3 linked regions of the Homo sapiens genome follow. The protein of the gene in region 2 interacts with the protein of the main gene of each other region in a biochemical or structural test. Each region holds a gene or a part of one and is shown on either strand. Other genes may lie near its edges.

The links. Proteins that work in one complex are often made in the same cells at the same time.
Region 1: the proteins of RYR2 (region 2) and CACNA1C form a complex in vitro, tested with the Homo sapiens proteins (one study listed by BioGRID).
Region 3: of the proteins of RYR2 (region 2) and PRKACG, one has a biochemical effect on the other in vitro, tested with the Homo sapiens proteins (one study listed by BioGRID).

Annotation. Positions count from the first base shown.
Region 1 is NC_000012.12:2,685,828-2,693,592, forward strand, and holds part of CACNA1C (voltage-dependent L-type calcium channel subunit alpha-1C), read left to right. Parts: coding exon 1-15; intron 16-338; coding exon 339-442; intron 443-2,619; coding exon 2,620-2,952; intron 2,953-4,312; exon of another isoform or gene 4,313-4,383; intron 4,384-4,979; exon of another isoform or gene 4,980-5,072; coding exon 5,073-5,372; 3' UTR 5,373-7,765. UniProt on the Homo sapiens protein: Pore-forming, alpha-1C subunit of the voltage-gated calcium channel that gives rise to L-type calcium currents. Mediates influx of calcium ions into the cytoplasm, and thereby triggers calcium release from the sarcoplasm.
Region 2 is NC_000001.11:237,779,934-237,787,698, forward strand, and holds part of RYR2 (ryanodine receptor 2), read left to right. Parts: intron 1-1,631; coding exon 1,632-1,713; intron 1,714-3,741; coding exon 3,742-5,039; intron 5,040-6,035; coding exon 6,036-6,103; intron 6,104-7,765. UniProt on the Homo sapiens protein: Cytosolic calcium-activated calcium channel that mediates the release of Ca(2+) from the sarcoplasmic reticulum into the cytosol and thereby plays a key role in triggering cardiac muscle contraction. Aberrant channel activation can lead to cardiac arrhythmia.
Region 3 is NC_000009.12:69,011,398-69,019,172, forward strand, and holds PRKACG (cAMP-dependent protein kinase catalytic subunit gamma), read right to left. Parts: upstream 2,717-7,775; 5' UTR 2,696-2,716; coding exon 1,640-2,695; 3' UTR 1,107-1,639; downstream 1-1,106. UniProt on the Homo sapiens protein: Phosphorylates a large number of substrates in the cytoplasm and the nucleus.

The DNA of each region.
Region 1 (7,765 bases), on a different chromosome or scaffold from region 2:
GCTCTGCCTCACTAGGTAAATGCACCGCTCGCTCTCTGGATGTGGTCGGCGGTTACTCCCTAGAGAACACTGGTCAGGGATGATTGGGAAATCGTTGTGGCCTGCCTCAAATCAGCCCCACACAGTGGGGCATTTCCAAAGCAAGGAGACAACATTCCAAAGGCAGGGTGTGCAGGGATGAGCCCTGGACACCAGAATACGTCTCAGACGAGGGGAGGGGAAAGGAGGAGCGTCTCGGGCCATAGTTACTGCTCCTGGCACCCCACCAGGGTGTAAACTGTCACAGGCCAGTGCCCTGTTTTCCTGCCCTGATGGTGGCTCTCTGGCTGGCTTTGCAGGTCGAAGGGCCTCCTTCCACCTGGAATGTCTGAAGCGACAGAAGGACCGAGGGGGAGACATCTCTCAGAAGACAGTCCTGCCCTTGCATCTGGTTCATCATCAGGTAGCTCACACTTTTGGACAGGCCACTGTCACCTGCCAGCAGGCCAGACAGTCCCCAGGGTGACGGACAAATCCTGAAGACTTCAGTGGGTCTTGCCTGTCTCAGATGGCTGGCACGTCCTGCCCCTGCCCTAAGAGCCATCCCTGTAGGGCTTCACACTCCTGTGCAGGTGAGGGCCACGGCAAGGTCTGCAGCATCGCAGGTGGGGGCCTAGGAAGTGCTGGTGCACAGGAGCTCTTTGTGTGATCCTGAGGACCCACAGCTGCAGGTTCCACCTGAGCTTTCTTCTTAGGCTGCCACAGATGCCACTGACGCCTCTGACACTGGCCTATGCCTCAGGGCACTCAGGAAGATGTACTTGTACCTAGAGTTTGAATATACCTGGAAATTTTGCCACACAAAAATCCATCCAGTGACATAAAGAAGTGATTAAAGAACCCACCAGCAACATGGTCAAGAGTAGGGAATGACATCCGTGGGAAGCAGGTCCAGGGAGATTCCATAAATGAAATGTCTCTTGGCATGGCTGACTCCAGCTGAGACAGTGAAATCCAAGATGCCAGGACCAAACATGCCTTAGTATCTTTGAACTTCAGTGTTATCTAAGGCCAGTCTATTAACCCCAGGCAAACTGAGGTCTAAACCTGGGTTTCCCAACATTCTGACCTTATTAAAGTTATACTCTTTTATAGCATGGACCTATGTTTTAAATAGACCTATGCTTTGTACCCAAAGGCATTCAACTGCCAATCAAAAGTCATAATCAGCATGAGATGGCCAGTGTGGCCTGGCTGAGTTGATAGTACTTCAGCTCCAAAAAATAAACAGGTTTTCTTAGCCTGTGTGGTGTTGTCTTCCACTGGGCTTTCTGAAATAATGAATATGGCCTTACACTTTTCTCAGATTCCCAGGGACCCAGGAGCCCCAGGCTGAGGACCACCATGGGCAGGGGCAGGAGGTGGAAGGATGTGGGGACACTGTGTGTGCTATCTTAAAAGATTTCTAGAAGTCGATTTCACCTATCTGTTCTTGTCGTACTGGTAGGCACGAAACTCTCCTCTTCATCTCTTTCTCCTCCTGTACTCTGTGACCCTAGAGGTGGTCTTTCCCCACCACAGTGTCGCTCTCTCCCGGGAGCACATCCCATCAGAGCAGCTCACCCTGCAGAGCCTCTGCCCTGGCAGGTTGTCATGGCAACAGCCAGACAGGCCTGGTCCCTACCCTCAGGATGCTCAAGAATATTCAGGGACAGAGGGCGTACCGTGTGACTTTTTTTTTTTTTTTTTTGAGACAGAGTTTTGCTCTTGTTGCCCAGGCTGGAGTGCAATGGCACGATCTCGGCTCACCACAACCTCCACCTCCCGGGTTCAAGTGATTCTCCTGCCTCAGCCTCCCAAGTAGCTGGGATTACAGGCATGCACCACCATGCCTGGCTAATTTTGCATTTGTAGTAGAGACTGGGTTACTCCGTGTTGGTCAGGCTGGTCTTGAACTCCCGACCTCAGGTGATCTGCCCGCCTTGGCCTCCCAAAGTCCTGGGATTACAGGCATGAGCCACTGCTCCCAGCCCTGAATCTTTTAATCACAATACAGCACCGGATTTAACAATGGCTCAAAGACAACCTGAGCTAGAGACTGGCAGGGCATTATGAATGGCCCCATTAACTGTGAGAACTAAAACCACAAATACTGGTTTTCCCAACTCTTTGTGAGGTGCACAGCGCTTCTTCACAGACCTCATTGCGCTTGAGCCTCACACCAGCCCCACAGGGCAGATGGATAGACAGCATTCGTTTTCTGGCTTTACAGACATGCAGGCCTCACCCTGCTCTCCATTCTATTGAGGACAAAACCAAGAGCGAGAGAATGCACAGCTGACAGGTGACCAGGCCAGGGCTAAAAGCAGGTTACCACGACTTCACCCAATCCCAGCTTTCAGAAGTTACAGGAGAAAGAGATCACTTCAGACCCAGATGATCCTAAGATGTATTTTGAGATAGTTGAAAGTCATGCCAGGTTGAGATAGGACCGACAGGGGAAAATAATGGCATGGGAATACCAGGCAGGTGGAGCTAGCTGGACACAGCAGCTGCAAAGCAGTGCTTGCTCAGAAGCAGGGGCCTGCCTTGTTTGGGGTCGGCCACTCCTATTAACTCACACTCCTTGTGTGTCCGCAGGCATTGGCAGTGGCAGGCCTGAGCCCCCTCCTCCAGAGAAGCCATTCCCCTGCCTCATTCCCTAGGCCTTTTGCCACCCCACCAGCCACACCTGGCAGCCGAGGCTGGCCCCCACAGCCCGTCCCCACCCTGCGGCTTGAGGGGGTCGAGTCCAGTGAGAAACTCAACAGCAGCTTCCCATCCATCCACTGCGGCTCCTGGGCTGAGACCACCCCCGGTGGCGGGGGCAGCAGCGCCGCCCGGAGAGTCCGGCCCGTCTCCCTCATGGTGCCCAGCCAGGCTGGGGCCCCAGGGAGGCAGTTCCACGGCAGTGCCAGCAGCCTGGTGGAAGCGGTAGGTGACTCGCAGATGGGCAGGGGGGAGAGGCCACGGGCAACAAGGGGACTTGGCATGCGGGGCTGAGAAGGGAGCACCTGGCTCTTGCCAAATTCATTGCAGTCAATATCTGAGCCCGAAAGACCCTCCCTCTCAGGGCTGCAGGAGGGCTCGTGTGCGGAAAGCCATGACTGCACAAGATGCTATGGGCTCTCTTGAGGCTGGGCCCACTGCAGAGGGCGGCAGAAACCACTGAGCAACTTATCCCTTATACTGCAGCTGCTCGACATGCAAATGTGAGCCTGGCTGCCTTTATACACAGACAGGCAAGATCCAAGGTGCTCAGGCCTGACTGCCCGTGAGCATCACCTGGGGAGCTTTGGAAACCCGGGACAGATTAACTGATGATTGTTAAAGCTCTTCGATGATTTTAACGTGTAGCAAGGTTGAGAGCCACTAGCCTAGAACAAGCGAGCTTTCAGTCCCACTGTGCTCTGCCTGGTCAGAGCATCTAGTGCAATCCCGGCACCACATTATTAGGGACCTTTGACACACTGGAACAAACCCAACAGAGGATGACCAGGATGGCAAGGTTCCTAGAAACCATTTCCTAGGAGAACCGTTTCAGGGAATTCGGGAAGAAAACCTGGAGAGGAGGTGACTTTGGAGGGTGCGATACACCTCTCACACCTGCAACGGGTGGGATGGGGAAAGGGTGGCAGGCTCAGCCCACCAGCGGACAGATTTCAGCTCACATGGGGAAGACCTTCCCAAATGAGCTCTTCCAAGATGAGAGGGGCTTGCCTGAAAGGTAGTGAGCCCCCCATCATCAGACATAGCCAAGCAGAGACTGTGCTCATCCGGGCGTCAGGCTGTGGTGCAGGAGGTGGGGCGTTAAACCAGGTGGCTTCCAAGGTTTACCTCTCAAAGTCTGGTATTCCTGTGGCCTCGATCATCCTGCATTCATTTCACAGACCTTCCCTGAGCGCCTACCATGTGCAGGCCCTGTTCTAGGTACAGGGACACAGCTGAGAAACAGAGCTTCTGCTCTCATGAGCTCACATCATGGTGAGGAGAGACAGATAATAAACACATACATATATAACACATCAGGAAGGTCAGGAGTGCCAAAGAAAAACTAAGCAGGGCAAGGAGAGAATGAGTGGCGTGGGCAAGGAGCAAGACAAACAGATGCCTGAAAGGAGCGAGTGCCAGGCTGCACTCAGCTTCCCCCGACCCGCTGGCTCAGGAGCCGATTTTCCCATAGCCAGGCACTAAGCAGCCGGTAGGGAGGACAGAGAAGCTTAAGGGTCACCTGCTGGCCCTTCCCAGCAGAAGCAAGGCAGGGGCATGCGCCGTGTTTGCACAGATACCTCACCCCTGGAAAGGCAGCAGCAGGCAATGGGCAGTGGGCCTGTCTCAGCAGTTTCACCAGGGAGAATGGTTTCTCTGAAAGAATAGTATAAAGGTTCAGTGGGTGTCAGAAAGGAGAGAGGCAGGCTGGGATCTGCTGATACAGCATCAGGGCAACCCCCCGGCCCCTCTGAGAGCCAAACCTTCTCTGGTTTTTGTTTTGGTTGTTTTTTGAGACAGGGTCTCGCTCTGTCACCCAGGCTGGAGTGTAGTGGTACAATCACAGCTCAGTGCAGCCTGGCGCTGCTGGGGTCAAATGATCCTCCCACCTCAGTCTCTGGCCTTGCTAAGATCACAGGTGTGCATCACCACACCCAGCTAATTATTCTTAAATTTTTTGTAGAGACGAAGTTTCCCTGTGTTGCCTGGGCCTGGTCTCGAACTCCTGGGCTCAAGCAGTCCTTCTGCCTGGGCTTCCCAAAGTGCTGGGTGACAGGTGTGAGCCACCGTGCTGGGCCATAAGCAAGTCTTCATATATTTGATGACAGTGTTTGACCACCCCAGCCAAAACTTCTCTGGCCTGCACATCCCTAATTCTGGCAGATGCTCCATCTCCACTTGTTCCCCATGGGTGCCCCTCCCAACACACACACGTACACGTGCACACACGCACACTTCCCCAAGTGACCTACCAGATACCCCCTCGCTCTAGCCCTCAAGGGAAGAGCTGGGCTCCAGGAGTAATGTTCCTTTGGTTCTTCATGGCTCCCACCCCGCTCCTTCAGGTCTTGATTTCAGAAGGACTGGGGCAGTTTGCTCAAGATCCCAAGTTCATCGAGGTCACCACCCAGGAGCTGGCCGACGCCTGCGACATGACCATAGAGGAGATGGAGAGCGCGGCCGACAACATCCTCAGCGGGGGCGCCCCACAGAGCCCCAATGGCGCCCTCTTACCCTTTGTGAACTGCAGGGACGCGGGGCAGGACCGAGCCGGGGGCGAAGAGGACGCGGGCTGTGTGCGCGCGCGGGGTCGACCGAGTGAGGAGGAGCTCCAGGACAGCAGGGTCTACGTCAGCAGCCTGTAGTGGGCGCTGCCAGATGCGGGCTTTTTTTTATTTGTTTCAATGTTCCTAATGGGTTCGTTTCAGAAGTGCCTCACTGTTCTCGTGACCTGGAGTTAACCGGAACAGCGTCTTCATTCATTTCTGTTGGGACCAGACGCGGAGCCTGGGTGCGCGAGCCGCCCTCCGGGAGGAAGGCGCCCGGCTGCGTCTGCAGAGGCGGGGAGAGGAGGCGGCGAGGGTCCCGGGGCGCGAGGAAGGCGCCTGCCCTCTCCCAGCTCGCAGGCCCCGGGCCCGGCCGCGCCTCCGCGGGGAGAGCACCCCGGCTTCCCGCGCGCCCTCACCAAAAGGACCCTACAGCAAACGGGTGTCTTTCGACTCTGCTTGTAGAAACCATTTGCACATATTCTGTACGAGCCTCGCTGTCTCCCTAGAGCCAGGGCCCTGCGGATTTGGAGAAGGGAGCGGGGCAGGACTTCCAGGAGGACCCCAACCCGGCCCGGAGAGGGAGGAGGAGGCCTCCAGGGGCGCGGAGCTCTGGGGATGGGCGTCGGGCCGGCAGTGGTGCGGCTCACTCCGTCCCTGCCCACCTGCGACGGGATCCCCCGACCGGCACGGGCCACGCCGAGCTCCCGGCCAGCCGCCGGCCCGCAGGCAGCGCGAGGGAGGAGCTGCGCCGCCGGCTCCGCCCAACCAGGTGGTGCTGAGCTTCCGCTGAGCGCTCTTTTGTTTTGTGGTTTGACACTTTTCTTGACAGCATGTTGCAGTTTCTTTTCGGTTTTGGTTTTTTTTAAATGTTTTATTTTGCTTTCCCAGCGGGAGGGGAGGAAGAAGAGTGTTTACAAAGTCCTGTAGCCCCCTCACCTTTCTGTTTTCACTTTTGCCAATGTACATCGGGTTTGGTTTTCTTGTATTATTTAAACGGTTGTGGTTTCCTTTTTCCACGGAGGTTCAATAGAAGCCGCTGCAGGAGAGTTTTACCAACCATTGTGTATGCCCAATAATTTGTTATCATTTCCTTAGGTAGTAACCTATTTTTGTTCTGGTTTGGTTCGGTTATCTAATGGAAAGGTAACTGGCAATGCACTTGATGTGGTCTTGCACATGTGGGTGATAGAGTTGGGTTCCTTTTTATGCTGGGTGTACAGGTGGGTTTGGGAGAGAGGAGCATGCGCGAGAGAGTCTCCGAGTGTGTGCGACGCGTGTGTGTGTGGTGGGTTGTCTGTGTGCATATGTCCTGCCCGTGTATATGCACCCACACCATGTGCCCGTGCACACCAGTGACTACGCAGTCCCCCCTTTCTGGTTTAGCTGTGGGAAGATCTGAATCTGGGGCCGTTTGAAAGCAAAAACAAACCACTGTCTCTGCTTCTGAAACGGGAATCAGTAACTCTTTGCATTTTCTGTCCCACAAGATATGCAAAAACAATGCAATAATATTCATTTAAAAATACAATTGTGAGTTGTGTTGGCATTAAAACTGTATTTTAAAAAAAGACAGAAATTTAAGGGAAAAACACAAGAAGGCATTTTGCTTCAATATATTCCGTGTAATGTTTTATTGCATTGATAATGTTTCTGTTGAAGAAACCGTTATACTTGAATTCAGGTCAGTTTCAGTATTTTTCAAATATTTTTTTAAAACTGAATTGCAATTGTGCCAAGCGAATATAATGAATTGAATTAAGTTGGTTTTCGGATTCACTTCTTGTATATTTTGCTGCATGTAAAGTAAATCATTTTGTATTTGGAGTGTGACAAGCTTTACCTTTGAACTCAAGTGCTTTTCTATATGTGGTTGGGGGAAAGGGAACAAGTTTTCTTTAGTTTGCACAATGAGCAAAGGTATCACCAGTGTAGTCATTATTCTGCTCTCCACAAACAGGTTTGGACATTACTGTTTTGCATATCTTGTGTTTGCTTACATTTCCCTCAATTTTTCCAAAATCGTTTGCTGGGTATGTTTGTACCGCCTCTTGCTGTGAGAGACCAGGACCTATTTTATTCCAGTCTTCACTCTGTCCACTCTGCTCTGGTCATCTGATTTGGTACTTCTCCAAGAACAGCCCTTCACTGTGAGGTGCAGGGAGGCGTTCTGATGAGCCCTCAGTCACTGGGCCGTCATCCGCATCCCCCATGGAAGAGGTAGCTGGCTTTCCCTTCCCTTCCACCACACGGAATTTTCTCTTTGGCTTCCTTAGGAAAGTGTACACTAACCGGGAGGATAAAATTAAAGTCAGGCTGCTTGGAGGGAGGGGCATCCTCACTTCCGGATTCTTGTTGCTCTACCCAACAAGGACAGCAGGGGCTCGAGAAAGGAACTGGTGAAACCCTGATCCATCTGAAAGTCAACTCTGCGTGCTCCTTTCTCCATCCCTTCCTCACTCTGGAGCAGCCTTTCCTTCAGGCTTGCCCTA
Region 2 (7,765 bases):
TGATTAGACCAGCTATGTCTGCTAACTGGCAATTGTCAAAGTTAGTTAGTTAGGATTCTGTCCTCCAGAGTCCTTATCCTTAGATGTTGTCTGGAACTGTTGATTTTTTTATCAGCCTGGAGTTTTCCCAGGCAGGTACTTTAGTGGAGGGCTGGGATCATCCTTGACATGCAGTCTTGAACAGTTAGAAACTATATTTATTAGTGTTTGTTCAAGTCTTTATAGACCAAAGTTGAGGCCAAGTTGAGAAGAGGGCTCAGAGGTACCTGACTAGAGTTTGGTCAAGGAGAGAATGTCAGTATGGAGTTATTGGTGACTTCAGCCCAATAGGGAAATTCCAGTCTTTCATTTAATCACTAGGGATATTTTGGTAAGTAAAGGAAACCAACATATGAACCAAATGTAGACCCTCACAAGAGAGTTCTCATCCTGATGTTTTTCCATCAGGGTATTAACATCTGGTGCTACCTAGCACTTGTTCATGGTTTATAAAGTTTCCATAACAGCTATTTAGAAAGAAAACGTCTCATCTTCCCAACACTGTATAGCTTCATATGTACCAAAAATGCCTTGTACAAATTTTTTAAAGAATAGTTTAAAAAATGGATGAGATGTAAAGTTGTGCAGATGTAAGTATGATCCGTATTTCCAGGGACTATAGCTAAGCGTAGTGATGTTTAGACACAATATGTCTTTGAAAAAGAATGTTTCTTTATGGTAAAAAATCAAAAGCAAAAACAAAATTTTAACCAGAGTAATACTGGAAAGCTTAATCAAATTGGTAAATAAGATACATTGTGTAATATTTATTAGTACAATGTTGTACTAATAGGTAATACCTGTGTAGGTTTTTGGTTAATTTATCTAACAAATACATTTATAAGTTTATCTTCTATGGTGCTTATATGCCTATATTTCTTCTATATGAAGTTGATTTTTACATAATAGCACCTAGAAGAAGTTAGAAAGTTAGAAGAAAAAAATGCAGGCTTTTCAAATAAAAGATAAGATAGATGTCAAATGTGCAGAAGGTCTTGAGTCTTGCTTGGCATTGGAGAATATTCCACTGTTGTGGTTCTTTCATATTATTGCTATATATGTTCATTGTCGGTACAAATACTTTTTTTTTTTCTGAGACCCAGTCTTGCTCTGTCACCCGGGCTGGAGTGCAGTGGCGTGATCTCTGCTCACTGCAACCTCCGCCTCCCAGGCTCAAGCAATTCTTGTGCCTCAGCCTCCTGAGTAGCTGAGACTACAGGTGTGTACTACCCTGCCCAGATAAATTTTTGTATTTTTAGTAGAGACGGGTTTTTGCCATGTTGCCCAGCCTGGTCTCAAACTCCTGAGCTCAGGTGATCTGTGCGCCTCGGCCTCCCAAAGAAGTGCTAGGATTACAGGCATGAGCCACTGCGCCCGGCCTACAAATACTTTAAAGAACATGAGTTGAAATCAGTAATACTTTTTAATTGTAAAGTATAACTATTTTTAATATTTGGCCCTCCTTTAGTTCCATAATGCTTCAAGTGGTTACTATTTATTGCCAGAGCAGCATCCTTTTTGTGAGAATAAGTATGATGTTCCTGCTGCATAGTTTTCTTGTATTATCTCAAATGCAATGTTCATATTTTCAGGATTCCAGTCAAATTGAGCTATTAAAAGAATTAATGGATCTGCAGAAGGATATGGTGGTCATGTTGCTGTCCATGTTAGAAGGTAGTTTTGATTTATACTTTTAAATTCTCTTTATTATCTTATTTAAAGGATCAGCATGGGCTTATGGAATCAGAGTGTAGCATAGAATAAAATAGCACTCAGATATGATAGATGCCTTGGATTTCTTGCTGGCTTATTATTCTTTTTCTCACATTAGTTTTTTTTTAAAGGGAGATCCTGCATATCTCAGTTTACATATCTACAAAATGAAAATAGTAGTACTTTATAACAGTACTTTTCATTTCATAGTGATATCGTAAAAAGTAAGCTCTCCAGTCTATAAAGAATATTTTATTTGTTAGTGTGTTTGTCCATAATCAGTGGGGGTTTCGGACATTTGGGTAACAGTCAGCTGTGTAAGCTGCTGCTTTGAAAAGACCACAGAGTCACTCCTTTGGGTTCTTAAAGCCGTGGCACTGCTGGGAAAGCCTCTGTCCCCCAGGGCAGCTGGCAGTGGTAGTCTTGTTCTCCCCACCACAGCCTCAGTTTTAATTTTCTCTTTTTTTTTCTTCCCAGCTTATTTTGTTATTGCTTTTTTTTTTTTTTTTTTTCCTGTAGCAGGCAGGAAATGTAGCAGTTAAGAGCTTGGGCTCCAAATCCACCGCCAGAGTTTAAATCCTGGCTTCCTTACCTCTGGGAGGTATGACCCTTGGACAAGCTACATCTCCATTTTTTCAGTTTCCTCCTCTGCAAAATAGAAATGATAGATATTGATATGAGAATTCAGTGGAATCCTATAAATACAACCAAAACAACTAAGAAATGTTTGGTATTACGGTGCCTATCACTTTTTCTTAACTTCTTCCTATTTTCTCTCCGTGTCTGCCATACATGGCGTAACTCCACTTCAGTTAACTGAGGCAGCTGTCACGCCTCGTGCTAGGACTTTGAAGTGGCAGCATCTGCTTAAAGCCCTTAGTCGGTGGCAACAGTAGCCACTTTATACCCTTTAAACACAGGATCCATTTTTCCATGCATGGCCCCGATTCGAATTTTGGGTTAAATACTAACAAACAGCAACAATAATAACTGCAGTAGCAGCAACCACAGCAGTGACTTAAAACCAGCCTCATAACGTGCCAGATACTGAATTAAGTACTTATTTAATCCTAGTAACAAGTTTATCAGTTCAATGGTAATATTATCTCAAGTTTGCAAATGAGGAAACTGAGGTACAGAGAGGCTAAGAAATCTGCCCAGGTTGCTGAGCACATTAAGCCTGGATTCAAACCCAACAATGTGGCTCCAGATCCCACACTCTTAACACCACGGTGCTTACTGCTTCTCCGATTGACTCTGTGGACCTCTGACCAGCGACCTTTCTTCTCCTGCCTGTCTTTATGATATATAGCACGTTCTGTTCAATGAATAAAAGCATTCTGTGATCCTGTAGTTCAGGAATCTGCCATTTTCTAACAACTATACACACTGACTCATGAAGAAATGTAGAAAGGTGCTTTTCATTATGAATCAGAAAAAGCGTACAGTTTGCTCTCAGGATCTGGTCTGAAGACCTGGCACTAACCTTTAATAATTAAGTCACAATGGGCCCATTAATTTAGTCTTGTTGAACTTCAATTTCCTCATCGGTAAAATTAGGGTTAACAAAAAGTACCTGCCTTACATATGAACATTAAATCAGATATTGTCTATGATAGTGATTTTTCAACTCTAAAGGGCTGAGCAAATGTTTATTTTTATTATTAATATGAAACGATTTTAGTTTCTGGCTCTTTGGCTCATTTTCTTTATCTAAAACATGTTGCTTCTTTGATTGAGGGGAAAAATGTCAACTTTTGTTGAAATATTTTATGTGTGTCAGTCTAATTGCTCTGTAAATAGGGTTATGCATGTTTGTGTAATCATTTTTTAAACTATAGTTTATAAATAATTATCTTTTTATAGAGTGAGAGATAAACAGGGACATATCCTTGATTCAGATGTTATTAAAGATCTACATTGTTATCTTCTGTATGATCACTGATTTTGTTAGTTTATTTTAAACAAATGCAACTGCTTTACCACCAGGTAATGTTGTTAATGGAACGATTGGCAAACAGATGGTGGATATGCTTGTGGAATCTTCCAACAACGTGGAGATGATTCTCAAATTTTTTGACATGTTCTTAAAACTAAAGGATTTGACGTCGTCTGATACTTTTAAAGAATATGACCCCGATGGCAAGGGAGTCATTTCCAAGAGGGACTTCCACAAAGCGATGGAGAGCCATAAGCACTACACGCAGTCAGAAACGGAATTTCTTTTGTCTTGTGCGGAGACGGATGAGAATGAAACCCTCGACTACGAAGAGTTCGTCAAACGCTTCCACGAACCTGCGAAGGACATCGGCTTCAACGTCGCCGTCCTTCTGACAAACCTCTCTGAGCACATGCCCAACGATACCCGACTTCAGACTTTTCTGGAATTAGCAGAGAGCGTCCTGAATTATTTCCAGCCCTTTCTGGGCCGCATCGAAATCATGGGAAGCGCCAAACGCATCGAGAGGGTCTATTTTGAAATCAGTGAGTCCAGCCGAACCCAGTGGGAGAAGCCCCAGGTCAAGGAGTCCAAAAGACAGTTCATATTTGACGTGGTCAACGAAGGCGGAGAGAAAGAGAAGATGGAACTCTTTGTGAACTTCTGCGAGGACACCATCTTTGAAATGCAGCTGGCGGCTCAGATCTCGGAGTCGGACTTGAACGAGAGGTCAGCGAATAAGGAAGAAAGCGAGAAGGAGAGGCCGGAAGAGCAGGGGCCGAGGATGGCTTTCTTCTCCATTCTGACGGTCAGGTCGGCCCTGTTTGCGCTCAGGTACAATATCTTGACCCTTATGCGAATGCTCAGTCTGAAGAGCCTGAAGAAGCAGATGAAAAAAGTAAAAAAGATGACCGTGAAGGACATGGTCACGGCCTTCTTTTCATCCTACTGGAGTATTTTCATGACCCTCTTGCACTTCGTGGCCAGCGTTTTCAGAGGCTTTTTCCGCATCATTTGCAGCCTGCTGCTTGGGGGAAGCCTCGTCGAAGGTGCTAAAAAGATCAAAGTTGCAGAACTGTTAGCCAACATGCCAGACCCCACTCAGGATGAGGTTAGAGGAGATGGGGAGGAGGGAGAGAGGAAACCCCTGGAAGCCGCCCTGCCCTCCGAGGATCTGACCGACTTAAAGGAGCTGACAGAGGAAAGTGACCTTCTTTCGGACATCTTTGGCCTGGATCTGAAGAGAGAAGGAGGACAGTACAAACTGATTCCTCATAATCCAAATGCTGGGCTCAGTGACCTCATGAGCAACCCAGTCCCCATGCCTGAGGTGCAGGAAAAATTTCAGGTAATTTATCTCTAAGTCACAGCAGCATTCTCTCTGGACTTCAGGTGGGTATAATAAATGATCATTAGACCAGGTTTCATGCTAGTGCCAGAACGGTGTTACCTATGTGACTTGAATTTCCAAAGAGAAATGCTTTTTGGTAGACAAAGTTAGTGTTTTTAAGAGTCCTTATGAATTATTAAATTATCTTAAACTATTATGGTGTAAGCTTCAGTACCCACCCTAACTGTAGCCTACATCTTTCTCCACGTTTATATAATTTTATATGCACATTTGAAAAGTTGGGAAAAGAAAGAAAACTTTTAGATACCTGTAAGTGGCATTATTCTCACAGAGCATTGAAATTTTCTCCTCTGTTCTGTGATTTTCTTTGGCATGTTTTCATTGTATGTTCTTTGTAGTCATTAGTCCATAGAGCCATCATTCCATCCATGAATATGGCATATTTTCCAAGTGTCTGACAGACACCACTGGGTATCATAGGGAATTCAAAGGTAAGATGGGGTCACTGCCTTCAAATTACCTTAAAAAGTTTATTCCAGAGATAAAACTAACACACATGAAGAAACTAGAAAAGGGTTAACTGTGAAATAGTATAGGCAGGGCAGTAGGGGTTGCTTATGTTGAGAAAATGGCAATGCCGCTATGGTTTAAAGTAGTTAGATAAGAATGAAGAGGTAGGACTTAAACTGGCATTGAAGGATGAGTAAGATTTTAGTAGGTGCTTAAGATAAAGAAGGATATTTCTAAATGAGAAAAGAGAGTGAAAAGGAGTCCAGAAAGTTTGTCCCTGCTGCTGGTGCAGTAGGTCAGTGTGCAGAAGAAGCGGGAGATGTTTGGCCCTATAAAATGAAAAACACGTGGCGCTTTTATCGTGGTATAAGCAAGAGGGTATCTTATATAGGTTATGGTTTGACACATGGTCACATGGCTCCCTCAATTCATTCAAAGGTGATGGGTAATCCTGGTTTTCTTTTCCCCATTGACTCATTCAAGGAACAGAAGGCAAAAGAAGAAGAAAAGGAAGAAAAAGAAGAAACCAAATCTGAACCTGAAAAAGCCGAGTATGTATAGTTTGCATATACTTTTCCTTCGTTTCAGTTTGTCATTACATCTCTTTTTCTTGTACTCTGTCTTTGGGAGCTGCAAGGGAGAATCTCATATTGTCAAGGAGCCACAGAACTAATTGTGCCATCTCCGTGGAGAGGCTCTGACAGCGAGGACCTCAGGCCATGGGCAGGGATCACTGTAGACGCCCCCGGGGCTGCCAGTCTAGTCTTTTCCTCTCATTCCATGGGGACCTCCATTTGTGTGATTCCCTCTCAGCAGGAAAGACTCCAGTGATTGCATGGAATGCTGTTTGTAAGAGGACTCAGGGCCACAATTCTGTCTTTAAAAATCACTCATGTCTTTCTGTCCTTTCCAAGAAGGGAGGAAACAAACATTCCAAATGCGCTTTCATAGAATCCTGTGGAGTGGTGCTCCTTAAACCATAGACCCAGGACCACATGCATAAAAGTCCCCGGGAGAGTTGGTTAAAACAAACATTCCTGGGCCCCAAGCCATAGATCCTGCCTCAGCAGGTCTGGTGTGGGGCCTGGGAGCCTTCATTTTCACCAACACTCCTGGGATCAACGCAGCAATAAAAAAGAGCTGGATGTGAGGCGATGAAAATGCATAACTCCCTCATAACACCAGGTTTCTCTGAATAATCGAAGCCTACATCTTTCTCCACGTTTATAGAATTTTATACGCACATTTGAAAAGTTGGGGGAAGAAAGAAAGGAAGCTTTTAGGTGCCTGTAGTGCCACTATTCTCCCATAGCATTGAAATTTTCTCCTCTATTCTGTTATTTTCTTTGGTCTGTTTTCATCGTTATGTTTTTGTAGTCAGCACTATTCATTGTCATAGATCTCACACTATTGGGTCAGTTGTAAAAATGGCCCCATAAAAAGTAGACACAAATAACAGCAAGACAGGCATTTCAATGGCAATTCTTTAACTAATATATACCTCATATGAGTTAAGATTAAGTATAGCTTATATATATTAATATTTCTGGTTTATGTATTAATACATATGACTTCACTTTAATTTAATGAAGGACTGATATTTTGCACCTAAAGGATATCAAATGTCAATTCTTCTAATTCCATTATTGTTGGAATTAATATATCATTACTATAATTCACTTTATTTTATTTAATAAAATTAATTACAATTAATATATGTCAGAGTATAATGATACACTTTATACATGTGAACAATTAAGTGTGTAGGCCTCTGATTTTAAATCTTAATGGAAAATGTTAAAAATTGTGCATTAAAATTATAGGCTGGGCGTGGTGGCTCACACCTGTAATCCCAGCACTTTGGGAGGCCGAGGCGGGCGGATCATAAGGTCAGGAGTTCAAGACCAGCCTGGCCAACATGGCGAAACCCCATCTCTACTAAAAATGTAAAAAAAAGTTAGCTGGGCATGGTGTCACATGCCTATAATCCCAGCTACTTGGAAGACTGAGGCAGGAGAATCACTTGAACCCGGGAGCTGGAGGTTGCAGTGAGCTGAGATGGCGCCCCTGCATTCCAGCCTGGGTGACAGAGCGAGACTCTGTCTCAAAAACAAAAAAAAAAAAAAAAAAAAAGGATTGAAATTATAATTTAAAAATAGGGTATGTGGGACAGTCATAGCAAAATCATTCATCATTCTTCATTTTTTTAATGT
Region 3 (7,775 bases), on a different chromosome or scaffold from region 2:
GGAAATCTCATCTTTTCACAGCAAGCAGGTTGAATCACCCTGAGCCCACCTGGGGACCCACCCCAGGCCTGAGAGCTCCTCCTGGGATGGGGAGAAGTGATGAGAGGGGGAAATATGAAGATGAATGAGGTGGCTTGCCAGCAGCTCCTCACTTTTCTATTAAGAAAGAAAACAGACCAGGGACGGTGGCTCACTCCTATAATCCCAGCACTTTGGGAGGCCAAGGCAGCTGGATCACCTGAGGTCAGGAGTTCAAGGCCAGCCTGGCCAATGTGGCAAAACCTCGTCTCTACTAAAAATACAATAATTAGCCGGGGATGGTAGTGGGCCCCTGTAATCCCAGCTACTCGGGAGGCTGAGGCAGGAGAGTCGCTTGAACCCGGGAGGCGGAGGTTGCAGTGAGCTGAGATTGTACCACTGCACTCCAGCCTGGGTGACAGAGTGAGACTTCATGTCAAAAAAAAAAAAAAATTGAAAACAGCACGGGGTGGCAGGGGAGAAGAGGTGAAGGATGGCTGACAGCTAAGCTGGAGAGGGGCACCCAGGATGGGAGAAGGCAGAAGCTGCTGGGTGAATAAAACAGGCAGCCCCTCCCCAGCAACCCTAGCCTTGAACCCTGGGCGATGAGGTGGGGGTGGAGGGGCTGGGCCTCTTCCATGTCCTTTTGCAGGACTGCCTTCCCATAAGGAGAGGCTGGGCATCACAATCTGGCTGAGAATAAAATTAAGGAGTTTCGGGGAAATGCTGCTGTGAAGAAAGACTTGGGCTTGGAACTCCCACTCTGTCTTTTTGGGGGACAACTCCTCTTTGGCAGGGAGTAGGGCAGCTGCTTTTCTGGCTCCCAAAGCCCAAGGGTGAAGAAAAGTCTGCTGGGGAAGAAGAGAGTGGAGCTTCCTAAAAGAACTGAGACCTTTGCAAGAGTGATAGAGGATGCCCCTGGGGAGGGGGGAGGGGGAAATCAGCAGTTCATGGGGGAAGTTCAAACCCCAGAGCCTCCTTCCAAAGTCAGTCGGCTTCCTGGATTTGTTAAAATGGAATGGGGAGACACGGTAAGGTGGGAAGGGTGGGAGGGGTGGAAGTAGAGGAAGGAGGAAAGGGGACACTGGTGGAACTTAAATAAGATTTTAATTGTTTTTTGTTTTAATTTTTTATTCTAGCAAACAGCCCACTGAACATGGCACTAAACCTCTCTCCTTCCCAGGCAGGATTACGCCAAAGGGTAGGTGTGCTTTTCATTCATCCTCTCTTAGTAAGTGGTGCCTGTTCAGGGCTGGAGTTAAGTTTGAGCCCCTCTTTCCACACCGTGTCCCTTGATACAACAGCAAGACCTGGCCTGAATAGAGCTGAGAAACTCGTTTAAAACAGGCAGAAGGGGGCTGGGGCAAGGGGGACCCTGTGGGAGGAGAAAGAGAGAAGCACAGAGGGACCAGGAAGGCATGGGGGGGGGTGAGGGAGCAGCTGGTGTTTCTGTTCCTCCAAATATCTGGGCTTCCTGCTCCCCCAACCCTGGAGGGTGGGGTGAGGATGAAATTAGATACAAGGAACTCTGGGGCCCTCTGGCTGTTCAATCCAACCCTCCCATCCCCCAAACCACCAAAAACAAAAAGGAAAGAAAACCCACAGGGGCACAAGCACACCCCTAAAACTCAGAAAACTCCTTGGCACACTTCTCATTGATGGAGATCCGGAGCTCTTCCTCCTCGTAGTCGTCAAAGTTACTGGCATCCCCAGGGCCTGTGTACTTCGGGATGAAGGGAGCTTCCACCTTCTTCTCATAGATGGCGATCCAGCTGGTTGTGGCGAACCACTTGTGGTTCTTGATGTCGCCAACCCCGTTCCTGAGGTTTCCGAAGCGCTTGGTGAGGTCCACCTGCAGCAGGCTCCGCAGCAGATGCTTGAGGTCAGAGCTGAGTTTGGAGGGAAACCGCACCCTCCCAGAGACGATCTTCTCGTAGATCTGGATGGGCTGGTCGGCGTAGAAGGGTGGGAAGCCCACGGCCATCTCATAGATGAGCACCCCTAGGGCCCACCAGTCCACGGCCTTGTTGTAGCCTTTGCTCAGGATGATCTCGGGGGCCAGGTACTCTGGGGTCCCGCACAAGGTCCAAGTGCGGCCCTTCACGCGCTTGGCGAAACCGAAGTCCGTCACCTGCAGGTAGCCCTGCTGGTCGATGAGGAGATTCTCGGGCTTCAGGTCGCGGTGGATGAGGTCGAGCGAGTGTAGGTACTGGACGGCCAGGACGACCTGGGCGGCATAGAAACAGGCATGGGGCTCGCTAAACCTTCCGACGCGCTGTAGGCGGGAGAACATCTCCCCACCCGGCACGTACTCCATCACCAGGTACAGGTAGGAGTTGTCCTTAAAGGAGAACTGGAGCTTGACGAGGAACGGAAAGTCGATCGCCTGCAGGATGCGCTTCTCGTTCAGTATGTGCTCGACCTGCTTCATCTTCACCACCTTCTGCTTGTTGAGGATCTTCATGGCGTAGTGGCCGCCGGTCTCCTGGTGCCTCACCAGCATCACCCGCCCGAAGGAGCCCATGCCCAGCGTCCTGAGCCGTTCGAACTGATCCGAGCTGGCGGTGTTTTGAGCGGGGTTTCCCCATCTGTAGAGGAAATCTCCTCTGGCTTTGGCTAGGAACTCGTTCACGCTCTCCTCCTGCTCGGTGTCCTTCTTGGCGGGGGCGTTGCCCATGGCGGTGGCGGCGGCAGGGGCGGGGGTCTCGCGGCGGCGGCGGCGGCGGCGGCAGCGGCGGAGATGGCGCCCCCTGGGGCTGGCTGCGCTGGCTGCGGCGCTGCGACCCCCGCCCGGCCTCCGCTTATATTCCCAGCTACATGGGAGGCTGAGATGGGAGGATTTCTTGAGCCTGGGAGGTCAAGGCTTCAGTGAGCCAAGATCACGCCGCTGCACTCAACAATATGGATAAATCCAAAAGGCATTATGCAAGTGAGAGAAGCCAACTCTAAAGGAGACTTACTGTATGAATCCATTTCTATGACATTCCAGAAAAGGCAAAACTATAGTGTGAGAGAACAGATCAGTGATTGCCAGGGCTTGGGGTTAGGGGACGGTTGGACTATGAAGGGACAGCCTGAGGGAATGTGGGAAGTGGTGGGACATGTTTGTATCCTGATTGTGCTGGTGGTTACAATGTATTGGGTGGTGGTCTACATTTGTTTTAAAACTCATAGAACTGGCCGGGCGCAGTGGCTAAAGCCTGTAATCCCAACACTTTGGGAGGCCGAGGCGGGCGGATCACAAGGTCAGGAGTTCGAAACCAGCCTGACCACCATAGTGAAACCCCGTCTCTACTAAAAATACAAAAAAATTAGCCAGGCGTGGTGGCGCATGCCTGTAATCCCAGCTACTCGGGAGGCTGAGGCAGGAGAATTGCTTGAACCTGGGAGGCAGAGGTTGCAGTGAGCAGAGATCGTGCCACTGCACACCAGCCTGGGCAATAAGAGTGAAACTCCATCTCAAAAACAAACAAACAAACAAACAAACACCTCAAAGAACTGTATACTTCCCCCCAAAATTCAGTTTTACTGCATGTAATGTTTTATTTTAACACATACATATGATTTCCTTTCTTCTGTTTGCTTTGGGTTTAATTGCTCTTATTTCCTAAGGTGGGAACTAAGGTCACTGATTTGAAATCTTTCTTCTATTACAATCACTTAGTGCTATAAATTTCCTCCTAAGTATTATTTTTTGCAGCATCCCACAAATTTTGGTATGTTGTATTTTCCTTTTCATCCAGCTCAAAATATTTTCTAAGCTCCCTTTTCATCTTCTTTGACAGATAAGCTATTTAAAAGTATATTATTTCGTTTCCAAATACTTGGGGATTTTTCAAGAATTTTCCTATTGATTTCTGATTTAATTCCATTGTTAGAAAACATACTCTGTGTGACCTAAAATGTTTTACACTTCTTGGGGCTCATTTTATGGCCCAGAATATGATCTATCTTGGTAGATGGCCCATATGCACTTGAGAAGAATGTATATTCTGGTGTATTCTGCTGTTTGAGGATACAGTGTTCTACAAATGTCACTTAGGTCAAGTTGGCTAGTAGTAGTGTTCAGGTCTTCTATATTCTTATTGACTTTCTGTTTACTTATTCTATCAATTATTAAAAACATGCCACAGGAGTTTATGAGAAGTCAAAGTACATAGATGATGGGCCTTCCATCACTCCCCCAGGCCACCATGTCAGCCGCCCCACACACCCTCCAGAAGACTGCCAGCACTCAGCCATCACAGGGTGGGTTCTGAGCTGCTCTCCCCAGTCAATTCTGTACAAAGATTCTGTCCTACATCATAAACACTGAGCTACAGGAATACCCATTTATCCTCCTATTTTCTCTCCATCTTGCCCTTTAAGTTTGACAGCTAATTCTGCCTACCCACCCTGGCTACACCGCCTGTAGCTAGTGCAAGTAAACAACACACTTTCACCTAGCCCTGCAGGCTGAAACCAAGCAAATTGGAGAGGAATCCCTGATTACTTGACTCCAAGTAGAAGGTTTCTATTGTGACTGTGAATTCTTGCCGCTCAGTTCAGCAGATGTTGGTCAAGCAGGTGTCTATTGTGTGCAAGGCCTGGTTCCGAGTTTACGGTTTAATCTGGGGCCAGTACTTGGGTACTGACTGTATATTCAGAGACGGTCAGGTTAGAGAGGAAGAAGAGGAAAGGAGAAAAATCTACTGTTGATCATCTGAACTTCCACAAAAGGGAAACCCACATTCCCTCAAGAACATAGCAGGGGGGTCAATTGCCCCTTGTGCTTTGGGTCAAGGCAAATCCCTGGCAGATGGAAATTCCACGTCTCCCCCATAATCTCAGTGATTTCCTCTTCATTTTCATCACAGTAGATCTGCTAAAATTCTGCCCATTTCTGACTTACCTCCAGATTATTCAGTAGAAATTTATACACAAAGAGCAATTAGTGGGAAGCCATTCTCTTGGACCGACGCCTTGGAAGTGGGACAGTTTGTTTAGAAGCAGGCTGTGCCATTCCATGACAAATTCTTGTGGCATTAATCTCTGAAGTTCAATTAGGAAGACACAGGGGTCTAGAGGGAACATATGCTGCACACTAGAAATGTCCCCATGCTTCGTTTACAGGTCAGAACATCAAGTATTTATCCCAGAACAAGCTGCAGAATAATTACATTTGTTATTTCTCTCCACTTTCCGTTCTGCTTTTCTCCATGGCCTTGGGGAGCAAGGGAGTCCTTAGCATGCCAAGGAAACAGGAATCCTTTTGCATTCAGATAAACCCTTTCAGAAGGAAAAGATTTGTGTAGCAAGATACAATACCTCTGCATGATCTGCTTGGAGCTTGCCTAGGGGGCCAAATGAAGAGGTGAAAGCCAACTCTGCTTTCCTGTATGCCCAATGAAAGGCAATCAAGACCATTCTTCTCCCAAAAAACTGCTCACTGGCAGTCATGCCAGCTGATTCTCCTCTTTACTGTTTATATAGCAGTTTCCAAATGGCTAATTGCATAAGGCTTGGATCATTCAATTCTAACTTCCTCTCTATCTCCAAAATATTGATGGGAGCAAAGAAAAGAACAAACTCCACCAGGATTCAAATAAGAAATAAACTACAAATCTCTATCACTCAGGGAATTATTTACATAACACTGCATGTTCTGGTCCAGAAATACTTATCATACCTGGATTTTGACAAGCCAGCTTCTATTAATAGTTTGTTTTCTCCTTATTAGCAGAATATTGTAAAAGAACATTTTTGAACACAAAGTTTCTATGTCAGATTTATGATCTATAAAATGCTGATTTAAAAATTGGCGTGGCCTTTGTTATATGAAAGATGAAAAATTATGGGAGTCAGGAAGTTCAGAAATAACTTAATGACAATAATTTATAAAGTACTACATTTATTTAAAGTTTGGGCAATCATTCATCCCTTGGTACCACTAATTTTGCCACAATTTTTTTTTTCTTTTTTTTTGAGACCGAGTTTTGCTCTTGTTGCCCGGGCTAGAATGCAATGGCACGATCTCGGCTCACCGCAACCTCCACCTCCCGGGTTCAAGCAATTCTCCTGCCTCAGCCTCCCGAGTAGCTGGGATTACAGGCATGTGCCACCATGCCCAGCTAATTTTGTATTTTTAGTAGAGACGGGGTTTCTCCATGTTGGCCAGGCTGGTCTCGAACTCGCGGCCTCAGGTGATCTGCCTGCCTCGGCCTCCCAAAGTGCTAGGATTACAGGCGTGAGCCACCGTGCCCGGCCACCATAATATTTATAGAAGTGGCTTGACACACATGATAATGAGCATTGTAATGTTTTTGGGACCTGAAAAGAAAGTAGTCCTAGAAATAGGCCCAACTTGCTTACCTAAAAATATATCTTCTGACATATAAGAACTGCCAAAAGTGATTACCCCTAGGGAATAGCACTAGGAACTTAGAGAAGCATAAATTAAAGGAAGGAAAATTTTTACTTCTCACTTTATAAGCTTCTGAATTGCTAAAATTAATTTTGAGCATGAATTACTTTACTTATTAAAATAAAAATGAGGTAAAACATTGGTTTCTCACAAATGCATTTACTTATATTTTATATGTCACTTTTATATACTGTTTAAATCCACAAAAGGGAGACAATTTTTATAAAATTATTTTCCCCATATTTTGTAGTTCTCCTTCGTTTCCTGGCAATAGCACTCTGTTTTATCTTTGAGGGATTACTTCTACCTCATTTCATCTGATTCTGTTGGGTTCCCAATCTAACCCACTCACCTGAGTCAAAGTCAGGGATGGCCACAGGACCCAAGATAGATCGATCAGTTTATGTCTCTCAGGAATTGAATCTTGAGCAGAGACACAGGGGGATTTGAGGCATTTGTAAAGGAGCCATCCAAATACAGCATCTTAGAAGGCTGTCCATGTTTCTACAGCTGTTGGCCAATAAGTTCCTTGCCTTCTGTCCTGAGCCCTGGTTTTTCAGTTCTTCCTTTATGTGTCTTTCCACATAAAGGAAGCAAAGCTTTTTTTTTAAGCAAAGCAAATGGGACAAGGCGGGGGTGGGGAAGAGAAAGAAAGAAACAAATTTATTGAAGACAATAATGAATTCAGGATTGAACACATTGAGTTCATAGGTCCTTAAGACATTCAGGTAGAGATGTCTAATTAGCCAATGGAAATCTGGGATTGAACTTAGTAGACAGATAAGCACTGGCAGCACAGATTTAAGTGGTATGAGAGTGTTAGCCAAGGAACGTGAGCCGAGAGAGAACAGAGTCAAGGAGGGGGATTGTGGGAAACTCCACTATCTGAGGATGGGGGTAGGAATGTCAGGCACTGCTATTTGCCCACCATGGCTGTGTCTTGTGAGGCCTGCCGTACTCAGTCCTTCTGAGACCTTGAAGAGAATTTCTTGTGCACACCTACACAAGAAGTGGGCATTGTCACATGGTTGCAATGTGACTGCACATGTATAATGCCTAGTAATTATCATGCAACATACAGACAGTACAGCCGAGTGGCTGAATGGGAAACTGTACCCAGGACAAGATGTTAGATACAGATAATATGGACTGCGACAGGAGCTTCGGCACTCATGTAAAGTATAATGGCATATGAGTTTCTTGGTGACCTCTTCTGCTATCACTGTAACAGCCTACATTTCATGATGAAGAGTTGAGGCCCTCAAGAGAAACAGAACAGGAGAGCGCTTGATGATTTCCTCTGAAATCTCATCTGCAGCACTTAACATGTGTGATACAGCACACCTGCCAATTA